2 separate regions of the Homo sapiens genome follow, and region 2 is linked to region 1. The links come from fine-mapping of genetic effects on plasma protein levels. A gene starts in region 1. The other region holds a variant in brackets. All regions are shown on one strand. Distances are from middle to middle.

Region 1 (4,000 bases):
ACTCAAAGAAATTCCTGTACAGTCTTACAAATCAGTTGTAGCTTAAATTGATTTGTGTTGTGACTTGTACACACAGGTCACATTCCCTTGACAGAAAATATAGTTTAAAACCAAATTTGCAGCCCTTGTTAAGTGAATGCACAGGACTTTATTGTATTCAGGTCTTTTATTGTAAGACTCACTCCTGTCTTCATTTTATGTTCCACTGTTGTGCTTCCCATTTGCCTTTCTCTAGTTTTGTTTTCTGTGTTTCTACGGACTGCTCTCAGCCCAGGTGTGCAGGAAGCACACACATGCCTGCAGAGCCTTCATGGCCTCTGCATTCAGGGCATGACTTCAACGCACAGTGGCTGTACTGATTTGTTAAAACAAAGGAACAGATTACTTCTCCTAATTCACAGGGAAGTTCCAGGTTGTGCGGGCAGTGAGCAGACCTGTGTCTGTCTGCGCTTGCCCTGGTGAAAAACCCCACCGTTCAGGCTGCAGGGTGCGAGACCCAGGCACAAACATTTTGCTGGATGAGGAGGAAAGATGTAAGGTTGCTCCCCTTCAGAGACAGCAAAGGGCAGGTCTGTAGCTTCACTTACTTCAGGATTGTGATTTTTGACAGAGCCGAGAGATCAGGGTTGTTGAACCAGGCCTGAAGGTCCTAGTGAATCTCGTGAAGAGAGGAGGGGTCTGGCTGTAACATGGACCTAGAGGACATTTTTACTGCAGGAGAAGGAACAGTGGGGATGGGGTGGACTTGCCAAAGGAATATAGCTCAAGTTCCTGCAGCCCAAAAAAGCTCAGTTTCTTTTGGCCAAAGCTTCCGCGAGTTTCCCTGGCATTTCTCCTGCGGGAGCTACAGGGGCAGTGGGACACTTAGCCTCTCTAAAAGCACCTCCACGGCTGTTTGTGTCAAGCCTTTATTCCAAGAGCTTCACTTTTGCGAAGTAATGTGCTTCACACATTGGCTTCAAAGTACCCATGGCTGGTTGCAATAAACATTAAGGAGGCCTGTCTCTGCACCCGGAGTTGGGTGCCCTCATTTCAGATGATTTCGAGGGTGCTTGACAAGATCTGAAGGACCCTCGGACTTTAGAGCACCACCTCGGACGCCTGGCACCCCTGCCGCGCGGGCACGGCGACCTCCTCAGCTGCCAGGCCAGCCTCTGATCCCCGAGAGGGTCCCGTAGTGCTGCAGGGGAGGTGGGGACCCGAATAAAGGAGCAGTTTCCCCGTCGGTGCCATTATCCGACGCTGGCTCTAAGGCTCGGCCAGTCTGTCTAAAGCTGGTACAAGTTTGCTTTGTAAAACAAAAGAAGGGAAAGGGGGAAGGGGACCCTGGCACAGATTTGGCTCGACCTGGACATAGGCTGGGCCTGCAAGTCCGCGGGGACCGGGTCCAGAGGGGCAGTGCTGGGAACGCCCCTCTCGGAAATTAACTCCTCAGGGCACCCGCTCCCCTCCCATGCGCCGCCCCACTCCCGCCGGAGACTAGGTCCCGCGGGGGCCACCGCTGTCCACCGCCTCCGGCGGCCGCTGGCCTTGGGTCCCCGCTGCTGGTTCTCCTCCCTCCTCCTCGCATTCTCCTCCTCCTCTGCTCCTCCCGATCCCTCCTCCGCCGCCTGGTCCCTCCTCCTCCCGCCCTGCCTCCCCGCGCCTCGGCCCGCGCGAGCTAGACGTCCGGGCAGCCCCCGGCGCAGCGCGGCCGCAGCAGCCTCCGCCCCCCGCACGGTGTGAGCGCCCGACGCGGCCGAGGCGGCCGGAGTCCCGAGCTAGCCCCGGCGGCCGCCGCCGCCCAGACCGGACGACAGGCCACCTCGTCGGCGTCCGCCCGAGTCCCCGCCTCGCCGCCAACGCCACAACCACCGCGCACGGCCCCCTGACTCCGTCCAGTATTGATCGGGAGAGCCGGAGCGAGCTCTTCGGGGAGCAGCGATGCGACCCTCCGGGACGGCCGGGGCAGCGCTCCTGGCGCTGCTGGCTGCGCTCTGCCCGGCGAGTCGGGCTCTGGAGGAAAAGAAAGGTAAGGGCGTGTCTCGCCGGCTCCCGCGCCGCCCCCGGATCGCGCCCCGGACCCCGCAGCCCGCCCAACCGCGCACCGGCGCACCGGCTCGGCGCCCGCGCCCCCGCCCGTCCTTTCCTGTTTCCTTGAGATCAGCTGCGCCGCCGACCGGGACCGCGGGAGGAACGGGACGTTTCGTTCTTCGGCCGGGAGAGTCTGGGGCGGGCGGAGGAGGAGACGCGTGGGACACCGGGCTGCAGGCCAGGCGGGGAACGGCCGCCGGGACCTCCGGCGCCCCGAACCGCTCCCAACTTTCTTCCCTCACTTTCCCCGCCCAGCTGCGCAGGATCGGCGTCAGTGGGCGAAAGCCGGGTGCTGGTGGGCGCCTGGGGCCGGGGTCCCGCACGTGCGCCCCGCGCTGTCTTCCCAGGGCGCGACGGGGTCCTGGCGCGCACCCGAGGGGCGGGCGCTGCCCACCCGCCGAGACTGCACTGTTTAGGGAAGCTGAGGAAGGAACCCAAAAATACAGCCTCCCCTCGGACCCCGCGGGACAGGCGGCTTTCTGAGAGGACCTCCCCGCCTCCGCCCTCCGCGCAGGTCTCAAACTGAAGCCGGCGCCCGCCAGCCTGGCCCCGGCCCCTCTCCAGGTCCCCGCGATCCTCGTTCCCCAGTGTGGAGTCGCAGCCTCGACCTGGGAGCTGGGAGAACTCGTCTACCACCACCTGCGGCTCCCGGGGAGGGGTGGTGCTGGCGGCGGTTAGTTTCCTCGTTGGCAAAAGGCAGGTGGGGTCCGACCCGCCCCTTGGGCGCAGACCCCGGCCGCTCGCCTCGCCCGGTGCGCCCTCGTCTTGCCTATCCAAGAGTGCCCCCCACCTCCCGGGGACCCCAGCTCCCTCCTGGGCGCCCGCGCCGAAAGCCCCAGGCTCTCCTTCGATGGCCGCCTCGCGGAGACGTCCGGGTCTGCTCCACCTGCAGCCCTTCGGTCGCGCCTGGGCTTCGCGGTGGAGCGGGACGCGGCTGTCCGGCCACTGCAGGGGGGGATCGCGGGACTCTTGAGCGGAAGCCCCGGAAGCAGAGCTCATCCTGGCCAACACCATGGTGTTTCAAAATGGGGCTCACAGCAAACTTCTCCTCAAAACCCGGAGACTTTCTTTCTTGGATGTCTCTTTTTGCTGTTTGAAGAATTTGAGCCAACCAAAATATTAAACCTGTCTTACACACACACACACACACACACACACACACACACCGGATTGCTGTCCCTGGTTCAAGTGTGCCAAGTGTGCAGACAGAACATGAGCGAGTCTGGCTTCGTGACTACCGACCATAAACCCACTTGACAGGGGAAACATGCCTTGGAAGGTTTAATTGCACAATTCCAACCTTGAGCTGCGCGGGTTCCAAGAGCCAGGCCCGTACTTGCTGTTGATGTCATTGGCTTGGGGAGTTGGGGTTTGGTGCCCAGCGCGGTCGTTGGGGGAGGGGCAAGGCATAGAACAGTGGTTCCCAGACCTTGCTGCACATTGGAATTACCTGGGATTAAAAAAAAAAAAATCAAAACAAAAACCAGTGTCTGGCTCCCGCCCCCAGACATTCTGATTTAATTGGCATGGGGCAAGACCTGGACTTGGGATTTTTTTTAATGCTCTTCATGTGATCTGTTGGGCAGCCAGATTTGGGGATCACTAGACGGAAGAAGGATTGTTAAAGTCTCCGGAGATGTTACTTGCCAATGCTAAGAGCTCTTTGAGGACATCTGGAATTGTTACAATATTGCCAAATATAGGAAAGAGGGAAAAGGTAGAGTGTGATTCCAATAATAAAGGATTCCGCTTTTCATTGAAGGAACTGGTGGAAAGGTTTCTTCTCTGCTGAGCCTGCAGGCCCGTCCTGCCTGCCTGGGGTGCCCGGGAGACGCGGGCCTGCTCCGGAGACTGCTGACTGCCGGTCCTGTTAGTCAGGTGTCAGCCCTGTCTCTGCCGAAGAGACTCTTCTCTTTATTTTAAATTA
Region 2 (4,516 bases), 150 kb after region 1:
GCAGTGTTGGTGGTGAGGAGGTGGGAGTCACAATGGTGGTAGTGATGATGGTGTTGATGGTGGTGAGGAGGTGAGAGTCACAATGTTGGTGGTGTTGATGGTGGTGATGGTGATGAGGAGGTGGGAGTCACAATGGTGGTGATGAGGGTGGTGATGATGATGAGGAGGTGGGAGTCACAATGGTGTCAGTGTTGATGGTCCGATGGTGATGAGGAGGTGGGAGTCACAATGTTGGTGGTGTTGATGGTGGTGATGATGATGAGGAGGTGGGAGTCACAATGGTGTCAGTGTTGATGGTGGCGATGGTGATGAGGAGGTGGGAGTCACAATGGTGGTGGTGATGACGGTGTTGACAGTGGTGACGAGGCGGGAGTCACAATGGTGTCGGTGGTGATGGTGGTGAGGAGGTGGGAGTCACAATGGTGGTGGTGGTGATGGTGGTGATGGTGGTGAGGAGGTGGGAGTCACAATGGTGGTGGTGTTGATGGTGGTGATGGTGGTGAGGAGGTGGGAGTCACAATGGTGGTGGTGTTGATGGTGGTGATGGTGGTGAGGAGGTGGGAGTCACAGTGGTGGTGGTGATGAGGGTGGTGATGGTGATGAGGAGGTGGGAGTCACAACGTTGGTGGTGATGATGGTGTTACTGGTGGTGACGAGGTGGGAGTCACAATGGTGGTGGTGGTGATGGTGGTGAGGAGGTGGGAGTCACAGTGGTGGTGGTGTTGATGGTGGTGATGGTGGTGAGGAGGTGGGAGTCACAGTGGTGGTGGTGTTGATGGTGGTGATGGTGGTGAGGAGGTGAGAGTCACAATGGTAGTGGCGATGATGGTGTTGGTGGTGAGGAGGTGGAAGTCACGGTGGTGGCGATGATGGTGGTGAGGACGTGGGAGTAACAACAGTGGCAGTGACGGTGATTGAGACATGATGATGATTTGTCAACTTTCTAGGAAAACAATCATATAATCTCCAACAGTGATATCTTAATATCTTTTCCAAAAGTATCAGATCATATTATAAGGGCCAAGTTTCCAGAATAATATCAGACATAATGACAGTGGACATCAGAGCTTGGCATCTAAAGGTAATGGGAATAGCTCTAATGTCTCAGCGTGAAAAACAACATTTGCTATTAGTCTGAGATACTAATTATCTAGTTAAGGAAGTACTCACCTATACCTAGTTTTTAACTGTTTTTTAAAATCTGGAATTGATTTTGAATTTTAACAAATATTTCCCTGGGAACAATGTAAGATTCTTCATATTTTCGCCTTTGGGTATACCAACATGCCAGCTCTGTTGGCCACTTTGTGAGCTCGATGAAGCATGGTATAAAAGATGCTTTGCTAGTGTTTCACGTAATCTATTTCTATAAGCAATTTTGGAGCTAAGCCTCTGAAACAGAATTATATTATCTGTATAGAATAAATGTTTTATCTTCCCCCTTTTCTTTCTTCTGGAATAGATGTGCATCAGTATCTCTGCATCAATATCTCTATATCAGTATCTCTGTGTCAGTGAGCATATGTTGCTGGGCTTAGGGGAGGTCCAGAAAGTGATTGGGTTTTGGCATTTTCAATACACTTACTTTGTATAAGAAATAGTTTGCCAAATATAGAAAGAGGGGATTTAGTCAAGATTTAAATTAAAAATGTTAGTGGTCATTTTTCTAATGTCTTTCTATTTTTTCCCAGGTCCTAATAAATCTTCACTGTCTGACTTTAGTCTCCCACTAAAACTGCATTTCCTTTCTACAATTTCAATTTCTCCCTTTGCTTCAAATAAAGTCCTGACACTATTCATTTGACATATGGAATTTTATAAATATTTTCTTTAGTATGTGTGATTACATTCCTGATTCTGAGCCTTTTTAGATGAGTATATAGTTTGATATAATCTTGTTATTGCCACCTGTGTCTTCTCCCAAAGCCATTAATTATATAGGAATTACACGATAGAAATGGGTTTAATTTTTAAAATACGGCCAAGTGTTGATGAGAGGGAAAATTTTTTTAATTTCTTTCACTGAGTATTTATGACGTGCACAACATTCCTGAATATATTGTCTCTCTCATTTCTCAGATGGGATGTATTGCCTTCTCCATTTCTATTGTTAAAGAAACACTTACAGGGGTTTCTTTAACAACTTGTGAACAGCAGCATCAGAGCCCAGACTACAGCATAAGCAGCTGCTGATTCCAAAAGCCCTACCTTCCAACCGGGCAGGTGCAGCCACCCAGACGAGGGGGAGGAACCCTGGAGGAATAGCTATTT[C/T]TTTTTTTTTTTTGTCGAGACGGAGTCTTGTTCTGTCACCCTGGCTGGAGTGCAGTGCCGTGATCTTGGCTCACTGCAACCTCCACCTCCCAGGTTCAAGCAATTCTCCTGCTTCAGCCTCCCGAGTAGCTGGGATTACAGACACCTGCCACCACGCCTGGCTAATTTTTGTATTTTTAGTACAGACAGGGTTTCACCATGTTGGCCAGGCTTGTCTTGATCTCCTGACAAGTGATCCACACACCTTGGCCTCCCAAAGTGCTGAGATTACAGGCGTGAGCCACTGCGCCCAGCAGGAATATCTATTTTTAAATGGAACTGTGTTTTCATAGTACACGGTGAGGAGAAAGTTGCTTTGAAATCTTTATCCTAATAAACCAAATAATATGAAAATTTGCCTATTTTAATTATATGTAACAAAGTTTAGTTACTGCTATAATTGCAAATATGTATAAATTCCTTACCAAAAAAAAAAGAATCAAGTGGGAGCCAGAGAATAATTTTTCTGACAGAATTAAATAACATGCTATAGCTGCTTGAGTTCATACTCAATAGTCATTTCTGCAGAGTTACCGAGGGCCTCATCAGCGTCAGCAGGAGCCCCTCGCCTTCTGACGCTCTCACATCCTTCTCTCCTGCAGCCCCGTCCTGCCACTGTCCTTGTCCAGCTTCTCTTCAAGGGTCAACTGGTCTACCTTTCCCTACAAGTCTGTCACAGCTTCTTGTTAGCAATCCCTATGGTTGCCCAAAAGCATTTTCAGAGCCTGCATAAGACTGCATCTTGTAGAAAATTTGCAGTTTCAATCTGCCCTCCCTCTGCCGGGTGTTCCCATTGTATTGCATTCAGCAGGCAGGGAGAGACTGCTATTAGGTCTGTTCCTGAGTGACTGCTTTCTGTCTCAGACTGTTTGGTGTCTGTAGGAGGTAGTGGGGTGGGCAGTAACGAGGTCTCCTGTATATTCCACCCCTACGAAGCCTGTGTGTTTGGTTTATGAACTAAGCTCAAAAGCACCACAGGGGTAAGACTGCAGTACATGACACCATGGAAAAGAGGGAGCACCCAGACCCCCAAATTAAGAAGAGCAGTGTAGAGAACAGAGACCTGGAGAGCAGAGATAGAAACTGTTAGGATCAGATTATAGTGTTACACCAGGGCTCCCCAGGCCTCTCACATATTGAAATGTACTTGTCCATCTTTCTCCAGGCCAGGAAATGAGAGTCTCAAAGCCATGTTATTCTGCCTTTTTAAACTATCATCCTGTAATCAAAGTAATGATGGCAGCGTGTCCCACCAGAGCGGGAGCCCAGCTGCTCAGGAGTCATGCTTAGGATGGATCCCTTCTCTTCTGCCGTCAGAGTTTCAGCTGGGTTGGGGTGGATGCAGCCACCTCCATGCCTGGCCTTCTGCATCTGTGATCATCACGGCCTCCTCCTGCCACTGAGCCTCATGCCTTCACGTGTCTGTTCCCCCCGCTTTTCCTTTCTGCCACCCCTGCACGTGGGCCGCCAGGTTCCCAAGAGTATCCTACCCATTTCCTTCCTTCCACTCCCTTTGCCAGTGCCTCTCACCCCAACTAGTAGCTAACCATCACCCCCAGGACTGACCTCTTCCTCCTCGCTGCCAGATGATTGTTCAAAGCACAGAATTTGTCAGAAACCTGCAGGGACTCCATGCTGCCAGCCTTCTCCGTAATTAGCATGGCCCCAGTCCATGCTTCTAGCCTTGGTTCCTTCTGCCCCTCTGTTTGAAATTCTAGAGCCAGCTGTGGGACAATTATCTGTGTCAAAAGCCAGATGTGAAAACATCTCAATAACAAACTGGCTGCTTTGTTCAATGCTAGAACAACGCCTGTCACAGAGTAGAAACTCAAAAATATTTGCTGAGTGAATGAACAAATGAATAAATGCATAATAAATAATTAACCACCAATCCAACATCCAGACACATAGTGATTTTAATTATTTAAGAGTAGTTTAGCATATATTGCTTTATGATTTAATTAAAAATCTCCAAAATATATGCCAAAGAAGTAGAATGAGAAAAATGTATATTTCTCTTTCACTTCCTACAGATGCACTGGGCCAGGTCTTGAAGGCTGTCCAACGAATGGGTAAGTGTTCACAGCTCTGTGTCACATGGACCTCGTCAAGAATGACCACACTGCTGTGGGTGAAGATGCTTTCCTGCATTTCTGACTGTCCTCTGTCCTGATCAAGTTTCTATGGCTCTGGGCCAGCCTACCCT

Which allele goes with the higher level. Alleles are on the strand shown, and positions count from the first base shown. The strength of an association depends on the size of the effect and on how common the allele is.
With allele T in place of C in region 2, the plasma level of the protein whose gene starts at base 1,663 in region 1 is higher (moderate association).

What was found. PIP is the posterior inclusion probability: the model's chance that the variant is causal. The UK Biobank Pharma Proteomics Project read protein levels with antibody pairs (Olink). The fine-mapping took linkage between variants from a reference panel, not from the people measured, so its PIPs are less certain.
Region 2: its variant is fine-mapped to the plasma level of the EGFR protein (UK Biobank, PIP above 0.99).

Annotation. Positions count from the first base shown.
Region 1 is chr7:55,017,355-55,021,354 of GRCh38, forward strand. EGFR (epidermal growth factor receptor) reads left to right here and starts at 1,663. Exons shown (of 28, transcript NM_005228.5): 1 at 1,663-2,011. The coding sequence starts at 1,924. LOC105375284 (a long non-coding RNA gene) reads right to left here and starts at 1,568. Exons shown (of 4, transcript XR_007060329.1): 1 at 1-1,568. RefSeq lists an enhancer at 2,663-3,337.
Region 2 is chr7:55,166,832-55,171,347 of GRCh38, forward strand. It overlaps EGFR (epidermal growth factor receptor), which reads left to right. Exons shown (of 28, transcript NM_005228.5): 16 at 4,344-4,382. Among named protein-coding and RNA genes, the nearest start is that of EGFR-AS1, 20 kb to the right of the region's middle. The variant C/T (reference allele first, on the strand shown) is at 2,272.